Homo sapiens: one gene and its partner. The protein of the gene in region 2 purifies or fractionates together with the protein of the main gene of each other region. This does not show direct contact. Each region holds a gene or a part of one and is shown on either strand. Other genes may lie near its edges.

What was found. Proteins that work in one complex are often made in the same cells at the same time.
Region 1: the proteins of SLC35F4 (region 2) and ASCC3 purify together in Homo sapiens (affinity purification with mass spectrometry; one large-scale study listed by BioGRID and IntAct). This does not show direct contact.

The regions. Positions count from the first base shown.
Region 1 is NC_000006.12:100,846,830-100,850,423, reverse strand, and holds part of ASCC3 (activating signal cointegrator 1 complex subunit 3), read left to right. Parts: intron 1-1,716; coding exon 1,717-2,276; intron 2,277-3,594. UniProt on the Homo sapiens protein: ATPase involved both in DNA repair and rescue of stalled ribosomes. 3'-5' DNA helicase involved in repair of alkylated DNA: promotes DNA unwinding to generate single-stranded substrate needed for ALKBH3, enabling ALKBH3 to process alkylated N3-methylcytosine (3mC) within double-stranded regions.
Region 2 is NC_000014.9:57,863,219-57,867,402, reverse strand, and holds the start of SLC35F4 (solute carrier family 35 member F4), read left to right. Parts: upstream 1-1,310; 5' UTR 1,311-1,577; coding exon 1,578-1,680; intron 1,681-1,725; exon of another isoform or gene 1,726-1,748; coding exon of another isoform or gene 1,749-1,842; intron 1,843-2,403; exon of another isoform or gene 2,404-2,616; intron 2,617-4,184. UniProt on the Homo sapiens protein: Putative solute transporter.

The DNA of each region.
Region 1 (3,594 bases), on a different chromosome or scaffold from region 2:
ATGTACTCAACGTTGTACTCATCTTGAAAGAGGTAGTTGAGCTATATTCTGAAACATGGGTAGGATTTGAACAATCAGAGGCCTTGAAGAAGAATCAGTATGATATAGAAATAGGCATAGAGTGGGGTAGAACGTGGTTTTTGGTGAAGAAATTCTTTTTGGCTGGAGCAGGAAATATATAATAGCCAATAAGACTGGAAAATAAAATGCTGGGGTCAGCTTCTGGCAGTGTAGGAGCTTGGATCAAGCTATAGTAAGCTGTGGAAGATTTGTGAATAATGATACTGGAGTCATGTTTCCTTCTTTTTTTTTTTTTTTTTTTTTTGATAGAGTCTCAATTCTGTCACCCAGGCTGGAGTACAGCGATGCTATCTCTGCTCACTGCAACCTCCGCCTCCTAGGTTCAAGCGGTCCTCCTGCCTCAGCCTCTCGAGTAGCTGGGATTACAGGTGTGTGGCACCACACCCAGCTAATTTTTGTATTTTTAGTAAAGACGGGATTTCACCATGTTGGCCAGGCTGTTCTCGAACTGCTGACCTCAGGTGATCCACCCACCTCGGCCTCCCAAAGTGCTGGGATTACAGGCGGGAGCAACTGCAGAGTCATGTTTTTTAGAAAGATACCAGTATTCATTACATTATTAACTTTAACAGTATTTAGGTAAGTCACATAGCTTTTGGGGCCTTTTGAAGATTTAAATTCTTCTTTTCTTCTCTAAGAATATTCTTTGAAACCCATGTCAGAAATACAGATTCTTTTTTTTATTTGAGAAAATTGGATATGAGAAAATGCCTTAAATAAATTAGAGGCTGATTCTTCTTATATTTACTTCTAGCCTCTTTTAAACAGGAGCTTTCTTTTTTATTTTATAATATGACTAACTTTATCTTCAGCTTAATAAATATCCTTGATGGTATTAAATGTTTTTGAATGAGAACTATAGAAGTATTTCTTGCCATCTCAGGTTTATGGTACAAATTGGAAAGAAAATTATAGATATTTGAGGTTTCCTTGAAGCTCCAAAAGTCTATAATTCAGATTGTTTTCTGTACCTTACTTTGGTTTATTTAACTAGCTCATCAAATCAATCTTTAAAATTAGTTTTAAAGTGAGTTTTAGCTAGTGTCTCAAGTTGTTTTTAGAAAGAAGCTGTAAGGATTGTTACTAGGTAGTTTCTGCACTTAGATACATAATAATTACTGATAATGATTTATTTACCTAAAATAGTTCTTTGGGAAATAAATAGTTCTTCAGGAATGGGTTGGTTCCTGCTCCTTAAATTGGCTATCTGTCTTTATTGTTATGTTTTTGTTGTTTTTTTTACAAGGTCTCACACTGTTGCCCAGGCTGAGTACAGTGACACAATCATGGCTCGCTGCAGCCCCAACCTTCCAGGCTCAAGCAATCCTTCCACCTCAGCCTCCTGAGTAGCTGGGACTACAGGTGCACACCACCATACCTGGCTAATTTTTAAAAATTTTTGTAGAGATGGTTCTCACCATATTGCCCAGGCTGGTCTTGAACTCCTAGACTCAAGTGATCTTCCTGCCTTGACCTTCCAGAGTGTGGGGATTATATGGAGCCATTACACCTGGTCTATTGCTATGATTTGACTGTTAGATTTACTCAGGAGAATATTTGTGGTAATTTTTTGGAAGATCGTAACTTGAACCATGATTCAATTGAGCTAATACTGTTTCTTTTGTCTTTGAATAGTTGGAACTGATAATGGGAGAGAAGCAATTGAAAGTGGGGCTGCATTTCTCTTCATGACATTTCACTTGAAGGACTCTGTTGGTCACAAGGAAACAAAGGCTATCAAACAGATGTTTGGCCCCTTTCCTTCATCATCTGCCACTGCAGCTTGTAATGCTACTAATCGAATTATTTCTCATTTTAGTCAAGATGATCTTACTGCTCTTGTGCAGATGACAGAAAAAGAACATGGCGATAGGGTTTTTTTTGGTAAAAATTTAGCATTTTCATTTGACATGCATGATTTGGACCACTTTGACGAACTGCCAATAAATGGTGAAACTCAGAAAACTATAAGCCTAGATTATAAGAAGTTTCTGAATGAACATCTCCAGGAGGCTTGCACCCCAGAACTCAAGCCTGTGGAAAAAACAAATGGCTCCTTTTTGTGGTGTGAAGTTGAAAAGTACCTAAATTCAACTTTGAAGGAAATGACTGAAGTGCCAAGAGTAGAAGATCTTTGCTGTACTTTATATGATATGCTTGCTTCTATTAAAAGTGGTGATGAACTTCAGGATGAGGTATAGTTGAAATGATTTATTTTTTTATATTAATGTGAACTATCCTAATGAAATAGTGTTTTTTAAACATGGGTGGTTAGCAAAGAAAGTTCTTTAATGTTCTGTATAGTAGTTGAATCTATAGCCAAATGGTTTCACATAGCAGGCCTGTATATACGTTCCTAATGGATAGTTACAGGAGGTCTGAAAGTGTAATGAGTGTAGCAGAGGAGTAAGCAGACAATAGTTGGGTGTCCACATGCTCTGGTTACTGGGACAGTGCTGGTTTGATGTCAACTTAATTTTAATACTGGACAAATTGAATGAGTAATATATTTCATGAAAGATTAAGAGGGATGGCCTACTGTTGTAGAAAGGACAGGCTTTGAAATCAGTTTGTTCTTCCCTTTCCACTTACTGGTTGTGACACTTTAGGTAACTTAATCTCTCAGAAGCTCAGTTTTCTTGTTGGGCTATCTCAAGGAGACACCAATATCAAGATAGATAATTGTTATAAGGATTGAATGTGATATATGCAAAATGGTAAGTAACATGTTAAATAATCATTATGTGGTAGCTGTGATTATTTTTGTCGTTATTATTGGAATTAAGAATTTTTAAATCACATTGAGTATTGGAAATACAGAAAAAATACTAGCTGTATTTTTCAGAGAAAAATTAATTTAGAGAATTAGCTAAGTAGGTATTGGAGGACTTAACCCATAGGTGTTATGCCAACTAACATTAGTTTGGAAGTAAGATATTATATCATTAATTCTGTGATCAGTCTTTTTACTGTGAATGTTTTACACTTGGTTTAATTTTTATCAGATCTGTTCTCACTATTAAATTTTCTCTAACATTCTGAACATAATATTGTTTTAAAAATTGTGATTTACGAAGAAAATTTTACTAATATTTGCTCATCATAATTGAATACATAGTAGTTATCCAATTATGATTATAATAAACTGAAATTTATAAATATCTAATTAATGGATATTTTATTTTCTTAGTAAGCCATAAAACCATTACTTTCACTTCTGAATATCTATAGTAAGTTTGTATTTCTTAGTCTTTCACCACAATTTTAAAGTATGTAACTGAATCTGATTGTTGGAAGGGGAGTATTTGTGCTAGATTTTTTTCATAATAGCTTCATTTGTCATATATTTATTGTATGCTTATTGTATTGCTAGGTACAGTGCTATTTACTGAACATAAAAGGATGAATAAGATAGCAAACTTGTTCTCAGAATTAATTGTCTAGCAGGAGGAGACATGTCAACAAGTAACTGTACTGAAATATCATAGGTATTATAATACTACATGCAAAGAA
Region 2 (4,184 bases):
CACTCTCAAGATCCCGTGCTAAGCTTTGTGTTTGGATGAAAACCCAAAACATATTGTAAAATTTAATATTGCGTTTTCATATGCTTAAACCTAATTTACCTTTTAGAAAAAAAATTTGCATATTTCTTCCTTCTTAAGGGCCCACACACAATGTGGAAAATGCTTGGAGGCAGGATGGTGTGATAGGTTCTCTGGAGGTTTCTGAGAGGGGCATTGAAGTCGACTTTTGTTTCTCTTTTTTTCTTCTCCCTAAGCTTTAGTAATATGAAACCTGGCAGGGATGTCTTAAGCCAGCTCTGCACGGAAGGTGGACCTAAATTGCCTCTAAGCTGATGAGCTGACCCTCCCCTCCACTAACCCTCCACCTCCACCTTTTCATTTCTGAGATGAAACTTTGAAAATTATTATTATTATTATTATTATTATTATTATTATTATTATTATTTGCAGGAAGCTGTGTCTGCAGACTATGAACAGAGGAATCGTCTCCACTGCTCACTGACCCTAACCCATTGGGTCTCTGGCTAAAGCAGAAGAGTCCCACACCTGAGGGGAGGGTGTTCGCTCTGAACACACAGCTTCAAGGATGTTCTGCTCTAATGGAAAGGCTCTAGACTGTAGCTAAGACTTTCACTCGTCCAGATATTTACAGTTTGAAGGACTTCCCTCCTGATATTTTTGGCAATAAAGGAGAAAATCATTTCTCCTCAGAGCATTTGAAATTGGAAAAATAAACGTGCTGTGTGCAGCTGAATCTTCTAAGCCTTTGACATTTTTCAGTGGCAGGATGGAGGGTCCGTATGGACAGTCAGACTTGAGCGCTTGAACACTTACAGTCTTTGCGTCTGCAAAACCTGGATAATCACTCCATATACCACCTGCCGGGAACTAATTTTCTTGTCATTTCATAAAAAAAGATTCCCAGTCTTCTAGACAAGTTGCAAGGACTGACTAACGCGGGGGAATGCTTGCATATCAGCAGACCAGAGGTGGTGTAGACGCCAAGCGTGGACCGAGTCCCGGGGCGCCCCAGAAGTGTCTTCTCCCCGAGCGACAGAGTTAATGCCTCGCATTAACAGCTATGAGTCCCTCTTGGGTTTCTCCCACTCCCAACACCCTTCTCTGAGCCCCTGGCCACCGTCGCCTTCTCCTCTCGCGCCCCACTGACCAAACATCCCTTTCATCAGGTGGGGTTGGGGTGTCTAGTTTTCGGGAAGGATCGCGCAAGGGTTAATGATGAAAGCTGGCGACCAGGTGGGGCGCCCACACCCGCCCCCGGCCACGGTGGGCGTCGGAGGTGAGGGGGCGCTATTCGGGCAGCAGTGCTCCGGGTGGCGCGCGGGAGAGCTGCCAGGCTGACGGAGAGGCCGGCCCGAGTGGGGGCCGCTCCGCCGCCGCCGCCGCCGCCGCCGCTGTGATGCGGAGCCGGTGCTGCGCCGGGCGGTGGAGTCAGAGCCCGGGCGCGGGAGCAGGAGCTGCAAGATCAGCACCAGCGGCTCCGGCACCTGCACCAGCTCCCGGGCCCCGCGCTGCGCTCTCCGCCCCGCCGCACTCGGGGCCGTCGCCCCGCGCTCTCTATGGATGTCAAGGCGGCCCCCAACGGGGTGGCCACTATCGAGGACCGGATCCTGCGGATCACCGGCTACTATGGCTATTATCCAGGTTACTCCAGCCAGAAAAGTAAGACGCCGCGCGGCTGCCCTGCGCGAGGCGGGGAAGGGAGGTGGGCGCGCAGGGGTGCCGCGGGGATGCGGACGGGCGGGCGCGCGGTACGGACACCTGCAGCCCTGCGGACGCTGTCAACACCGCCTTCCTGGCGGCGGGGACCCCCCGGGGAGAAAAGTATGTCCGCTGTCCTCGGTGCTGAACCGTGAGAGGGCAAGGGGCCCGGCTGGGTGCGCCCAGGAGTTTGGAAACAGTCGTAGCCTTGGGGGGAGGTGCGGAGGGGACCTGGTGAGCGCTCCTGACCGCCGTTGGCCGGCTCACCCTGGTGGATTTACGCCCGGAGGAGGCTAACATGGCTGTTCACTTAGCGGAAAGTCAGCCCTAGGGGATACATGCCCCGAAAGCCCCTACTGCGTGCGGGGCGCTGGGGACGCAGGCTGGGGAGGCTCGGGGGTGGGGCTGGCGGGGGCGGCCGACCCAGACGTGGGTCCCGGCGCTGGTGGGGTCAGCTCGTTCACTCCGGGCTGTTGAGACGCTGCCAGCGCGGGAGTTACTCCGGTTACAGTATCTTTAGGAGGTTCTTCACCCTGGGAAGAGAAAAGAACCTGCTCAGGTCTCCGAGCCCCAGAGCTTGGAGCCAGAGACCCGTGCAAAAGACTGGGGGCGTGGGGGGGGGGGGTCTGAGAAGGGGAGGCGACAGGGCCACCCGCCCCCGCCGCACGTCGCGGTCACCGCTTTCTTCCAGCTAAGCGAGGTCATGCGGCGTGGATGCTTTCACGTTTTTGGACCAGTTTTGGTGGGAGGGCGATGAGGTGTGCTCTGCTCGCAGTCCCCCTCCCCCAGTACACAAACCCACTAGCTATATTTGCTGGGATTAGTTCTACTGGCGACTGAAGTGCAGCTCATTTTTCTTCGAATTGGAGGAGTAGCTGCGGTTTAGTTTCTATGCAGGTGGGCTTTCGCTTTTTTCTTTATCAATGCATTTCTGTTGCAACAGATGAAGCTTAATTGATGTTTTTGCCGTTATTGTTGTCAGAAGCTTGGAAGCTCCTAGATGCATTTCTGATACGTATTTTTCTATGACATTTGGGGTGCAATCAACATTACAGTTTCTGTGATGCGTGGGACCCACAAAAATTCCGGCACAAAGACAAGAAAACACTATTTTTTCATGTAACTTTCTCCCCTACCATGCTTCCTCTCTATTGAATAATAATTCAAGAGCTTTGTTCCATGGGCTGTTCTCACACAGATATTTTCTAGTTCGATATTTCATCTGGTTTCAGGAAAGGCCTATCTGATTTGGATGGTTTCTGTCTAGCTGTTTTTAGCATTAGGGGCTTAAATTATTCATTTTCCATACAAAAGTAATTATATAGTGTTAGAATTTTCTGGAAAGAAAATAACACACTGTGGAATGCCCTTTGAAGTACTATACACTCAAAAACTTCTCCTTTTTTATTGGCAAAGGATTTCTTTTTTAACCCTGGAAACATAAGTAAAGGAACTAATATATCTTGTGGAAATTACTTGACTTTCACCTTTGAATATTTTAATTAGGAACCATGGGATTTTAGTGGCTTAGAGAATGTAGAAGCTGTGTGTGAAATTACAAGACTCAGGGTGGTTTATTATTGTAATTTTTATGACAATGGAACTTTGGCTAACAATGAACAACCCAAAAAGAATACTGAAAAAGTGACATTTTAGATAAGAACATGTTCATATTATATTTTTGTACTTGCTCAAATAGCTGCACATGCTTCATTTGCAACACAATAACAGGACAAAAAAAGGGAAGAGCACTGGCCAAGGCTATAACTGGTAGCCAAAAGGGATAAAGATTAACTTGGCATGGTTATTTGTGATGGGCACTTACCTACCTAAGTTCAGACCGTAGAGTTAAAAGAGTGAAGGCAGAGAATCTCACAAGAAGAGAGAATTAAGTGATAGTCAGATAAATCTCAGGATGCTCATGCTTTCGGAAGTAGAGAAAGATTGCTATTTTGCACAGTGAGAGATTGAGAGAGGAGAAAGCTGGAGGAGGGCCAGGGAACCGAGCACCATGAAATAATCCTGTCCTAATGCAGGCTTCAACTAGTAAACAAACACACTGAAGCAAACCAGTACAATATGGTCAATTGATTTGGCTGTTACAGGGAATGAGCAACAGCTTAGGGGAAGTCTGGAAAAATATACTTAAGAAAAGGCTACAGTGATGAATATATAATATGTGAAAGCAAGGTGACTTTCTCATTTCCTGTCTGATCACATATGAAGGACAATCTCTAGATATCTATGCCATTTACCTTTTTGGAGATAGACGGGGACTTACCTCTAAGAAAATGCACTGAAGATCAAGCCTTCTGTTAATGCATCCTGCTGTTTGCTTGTACCTTGTTCAGAAAAAATTCTAGTAGTCAGGCTGATGCAAAAAAAGAAACATGATAGAATTCAGATAAATGAAGGTACTTTAATGGGCAATAGGGCATTTGTTTTATTTATCCTGTTCAATTAAT